Linked DNA regions of Homo sapiens: region 2 is linked to region 1. A link means that fine-mapping ties the variant in region 1 to the expression of a gene that starts in the linked region. Tissue or cell type: testis. Region 1 holds a variant in brackets; the other region holds the start of a gene. All regions are shown on one strand. Distances are between the middles of the regions.

The links. PIP is the estimated chance that this variant, and not a neighbour inherited with it, causes the effect.
Region 2: it holds the start of OR4K1, and the variant in region 1 is the best candidate, but not a certain one, in a credible set for the expression of OR4K1 in testis (GTEx, PIP 0.76).

Annotation. Positions count from the first base shown.
Region 1 is chr14:19,955,919-19,958,614 of GRCh38, reverse strand. It overlaps the pseudogene OR4K16P. Among named protein-coding and RNA genes, the nearest start is that of OR4K15, 18 kb to the left of the region's middle. The variant AC/C (reference allele first, on the strand shown) is at 1,082.
Region 2 is chr14:19,929,513-19,932,208 of GRCh38, reverse strand. It overlaps OR4K1 (olfactory receptor family 4 subfamily K member 1), which reads right to left and starts at 1,292. Exons shown (of 2, transcript NM_001004063.3): 1 at 1,064-1,292. The region is part of intron 2 of LOC124903278 (a long non-coding RNA gene); the gene reads left to right.

The sequences.
Region 1 (2,696 bases):
GCCAGATTCTGTGGCTGATAAAAGACTGAATCAATCATGCGATGACCCTCTTTCTCTTATTCTTTCCAACGTTTGATGAGCAATTTCTGAAGTTTCAATTAAAGTTTGAGAAGAAGAGAAGCATGTGATATATTTTCTAATTAGCAATATATATATTTTCTGCAACTACTTTGAAAATTACACTCCCAAATGAAATTAACTAAAGAAAATCACTGGCTATTCAGATACCTTGCAGTCATTGTCAATTGATGACAGGTTATTATTAGTGATATAATGAGGTTTGTAATTGCTCTTTCTTCCAGAGAGTGTAAGAGTAGTCTTGTAATTTTAACTATGAACTTGGTTATATTTATAGTCCTGTAATTGATACTGTAGCATTTTATATATTTAAATTCTAGCACAAATAATAAGTATGACAAAAGACATGTTTGATAAGCATTAATGCCTTATTTGTGAATATAAAATTTTACCTTTATAACAATAAGGTATTAGCCAGAATAATTATGAACTGTAACTGATGAGGTAAAGCAGCACTTTTTAGAATCTTCATATCGCCTTTTATTTCAAAGCAAATTCTGTTTTAACTCAAATAATGCTAAATTATTCTCTATGTTACCCAGAGTGAATCACATGAACTAGCTAATCTTCTTTAATATAGAGCTGATTTTTAAATGTTGCAAGAGATTTTTTTTTGACAGGGTCTCACTGTGTTGCCCAGGCTGGAGTACAGTGGCACAATCTCGGCTCACTGCAGCCTCGACCTCCTGGGCTTGAGTGATCCTCTTACCTCTACCTCTCAGAGATAATTTTTTATGGTGCCTGTTTAAGAGGAAAAACTGCTTATGGGTTTTAATACTTGTAGATGCAGCTTTAGGGAGGATGATGTGAGACACAGAATATAGGAACTGGCATCATAAGATTCTGCACTGTGTTTGCCAACTCCAGATCACCATATTCAGGCCCTCTAATTTAGTCTAGTAAAAAAACTATTTGTGATACAAACACAATAATAATAATCACATATGTTAATTTCAAAGCCCAAAAGTAGGAATTTGTATTACTTCTTTGTAGTTGTCTAAAA[AC/C]CCTGCTTGGAACCCACATGTCATCTCCTTAGCTTCCTCATGGCTTCCTTTATATCTTTATTCCTCAGAGTATAAATCATGGGGTTAAGGAGAGGAGTGAAGACAGTAAAAAAACACAGAGATAAATTTATCAATTGGGAAGCTTTCAAAGGGCCAAATATAGATGAATATTAATGGGCCAAAGAAGAGAAGCACAACAGTAATGTGGGCAGACAGAGTGGAAAGGGCCTTGGACATCCCATCAGAGGCTTGGCGATGCACAGTAGCAAGGATGATAGTGTCAGAAATGAGCAAAAGGAGGAAACACATAAGTGAGAGCAGACCACTGTTAGTGAGCACCAGTATCTCAAAACCATAGGTGTCTAAGCAGGCAAGCTTGATCACTAGGAGGAGGTCACAGAAAAAATTGTCTACCCTGTTGGGTCCACAGAAAGGCAGATTGACTTTGAATGCCAGGTGGGTGGCTGAGTGTGAGATGCCAATGGCCCAGGAAACCCCCACCAGAACAGTTCACACCCTCCGGTTCATGATGGTCATGTAGTGCAGAGGTTTGCATATAGCAATGTATCTATCATAGGCCATGGCAACAAGAAGCACCATCTCACTACCCCCAAAAACATGCAAGAAAAAGATTTGTGACATGCATCCCTGGAAAGTGGTGGTCTTGTGTTCGTTGAGGAAGTCTGCAATCATCTTGGGAGTGGCAAATGTAGCCTGACACACATCGATGGAAGAGAGATTGCTAAGAAGAAAGTACATTGGGGAATGCAAATGAGAGTCTATAATTACTGTGATGATGATAAGGATGTTTCCCAACACTGCAGCTCCATAAAACACAGAGAAGATAAAGAAAAAGAAGACTTGGAGTTCCCAAGAGCTAGACAGCCCCAACAAATTGAATTCAGTAACCACTGATTTATTACTCCATCCATTAACTGAATCTGAGCTGCTGAAGTTATCTAGAGGGAAGAAAAGATAATTAAGATGGATTAAGAATAAGCTTTTTACCATTTTGCAAATCAAATAGATGCTTTGATTCTAATATAAAAATAAAATGGTGAGGCTATAAGACAAAGAGTATTCACATGATTGTTAGGAATTAATATTTTCCCTGGGCTCACTTAGATAATTATATGAATTATTATTTACTTTTGCCTTTATGCTTTGCAAGATAGATAGATGGATAGAGAGAGAGAGAGAGAGAGACAGAGAGAGAGAGAGTTTTTATCTAACAGATAAACCTATATAGAAAGAGAGAAATTGAGAGACAGCAATATTTGCCATTGAATTCTAAAATGTTTTTGTAGAAATGTGCAATACCTTAATAGAACTTTGAAAATCATACATACTGTACTTACACATTCAGATTATTAATAGTTGAAAATGAGGAGTCTAGCACCATTTACAGAATCTTGAAGGGACAGGCAATTTAGGCCAGGTGTAAAGATATGGAAATCAGTCCAGTTACTTTGATAAATGACAACAAATAAAGGAATGGCATGAGGCCATGTATTTGAGGTGTCTGCAGCAATAAGAATAGATTGAAATTAATTTGTAACAATTGAACTAGTGTGAGTGAGATATTGCATTTGCTTTTCTGTATCAAAAAATGTA
Region 2 (2,696 bases), 26 kb after region 1:
ACTTTTGAAAATATCCAAATTTCCCACAAATTATATCTTTTCAATATCTAATAAATGATAAGGTTTTTAGTCTTAATTTTTCAAAATATAGGAAACAACTAGAAATTCCTCTCCAAACTAACTTCCTATGATTTTTTAAATGCAAGTAGAACAGATCAGGTTCAACATTATATCTCATTTTCTTCTTAATAATTAAGGTAGTTACCCAATAGTATAGACAAATAACATTTGCTACTTGCTGGCTGTGTGACTGAACTTAAAAGATAGAACTGGATTATCTCTAAAGCTAGTTTCATCTCTAAAATTCTAAGTGCAGAGGCAGTTATGGAAACACATGGAGTTTATAAAAGTTAGCATTCCTTCAGCAGTCCACAGAGCACCCAGAAGCTTCTTCATTATTGAATCATTCATTCTGTCATTGCCACTATACCTCAGAGATAGGAGTGTTTTCAGATCCCAAAATACACCATAAGAAAATTTCCCTATTCTTGGTGTAAAGCCAAGTTGGATATGAAAGGGTTGCTGTTGCATTAATATCTACTATACAATGTGTCAATGGAACTCTGAAATCATAAGCATGAATAATTTTTTCTTGTTTTTATTTTAATGTATAATACTTGATTACCTATAAGCCTAGAAGCAAACAATAAAGGATATACTACTGACCATTACTCTACTGTGTATAGCTACACTTTTCTTCATTTGAGGCAAATTTTGGTAGTCAATAAACATTTGTTAAACTAATGGCTACAGAGTCACTGAACAGAAAGCATAAATGGGTCAGAGAAGGGACAGATAATGGTTGTAACATATGTTCCTCTGTTTATCAGATTCTGATCCTCTTCTTACCAGGGTTGCCCAGAAGCAGTGCAGTGGAAGAATGATATAGACAGAGAAGTGGAGAACAGGAATATTCTTCTTCCAGAGGGAGTTTTCAATTTGTCTGAGACAGCAATAACTTCCACTTTGCTATCTTCTAGTTGCTGTTTTTGCATCTATAAGAGATCTCATTAATTATTTCTCCAGTGCAACAATATGTTCACAATGAATGTATAATACTTACACTTTGAAAAAGTTGTCCAAGTCTTTCACTTCTTCCTTATTTTCCCAGTTTGGTGTCCTCTGGTTTGTTTCCATTTCCCACTTTCTGCTATGAGTCTTCATACTGAAAATATTTGTAATATAATCTTAACTTGATGCATTTTAACTTGGTTCCCTACACTATGCCGTATGGAAGGAAGCCTCTCAGGTCCTCAGGTCCTGTCCTGATGTAGTGAGGGCTCTGATCACCTTGCACTCAACCGAGCAATTACAATAACTTAAGGCAATACAATATAAAGCCTTTCAACCTCATTCTAGAAAACTGATTTCATTGGTGAAGCAAGAAAACACCCTTTAGAGATCTGAGGTCACTTTCCAGTGGGAGTAATTATGTTTTACAAAATAATTTTCCAGAAATGGAAAAGAAAAAAAGGTTTGTTTGTTTGTTCGCCAACTAGTGTATACATATGAAAGCAAAAGATTACTTGATTTTAACTGAGTATCAGTCAGCAAAGGAAGTATTCAGGTATTCAACTCCTAACTCTCTGTTAATAAAACAATCACACAATCTTAAAAATTATCACCTCGCCTCAGGGTGTTTCCTCCAATCACAAGGAGCCCACTGCTTCATAAGACAGTTCAGTCTGTGCTCCACTGTTTCTACCATTTGTAATTTAAAGAGTAAATCTATTAGCACTTCAGTATTATGTTTCTTCAAATATTTAAAGAGGCTCTCATTTATTCCCTATATAAATTTCTTTCCCAAAATACATCAACAGTCTTTTTCAACTATATTTTATATAAGTTTTCTAGATCTCCACAGGTTCTGATGTAAGTTTCAAGTGGTCATCTTTAAGTAAAAAAATTGAAGGTAAGATTCCCTATTACTTAGTGTTTCTATCTTCCTATCTATCCTGTGTGCATGTGTACACCTTAGTAAAACATTCACATATATAAGCATTTGAGCACAATGGCACATATTGCAGCACTGGCTGAAGGAGAGATACTGGAAAAAACCTAAGTACATATATATATATAAATTTGAGAGTGGGGAAATATAATATTTTAGTGTGATGAAATACATTCAATAATTAAAATTGTTAAATAATATTTTGTACATGAATATGTATGGTTAAAAACATAATGTTGAGGGAAAAAAAGTTAAAGATTGTAAAATTATGTTCGAACTTTTATAAACCAAATCAATGGACACACTTATGAATTAAAGTTTTAAAATATCCAGACTACAAAGAAAAATTCAAAAGCATAAAGCCTAATTTAGCATCTTAAGGGAGATATACAATGACAAACAGACAGTTAAGGGACTATCACAATAGTAAAATAATGTTAGATTTCAGCAGCAATGATTCAGGGAAGACCCAGTGTCAACAAGCATTTGTTTTTACCAGACAAGCATAATCTTGACTGTTTTTCGTGCTGTCTGGCTTCTAATGGTTCTGCTCATTTTATGAGGCTGCTTCTCTAAATGTACTATCAAATATGCAGATAATGCCAAATCCTCCTAATAATTCCATTTTGCTCAGGATGATTAGAAATCATTTCTTTTGATTGCATAAAATAACCATTATTAAAATAGCCTACAAAGATTACTAGGAGATAAATTGTGTGACAGTAGACAAGAAATATTTGCAAGA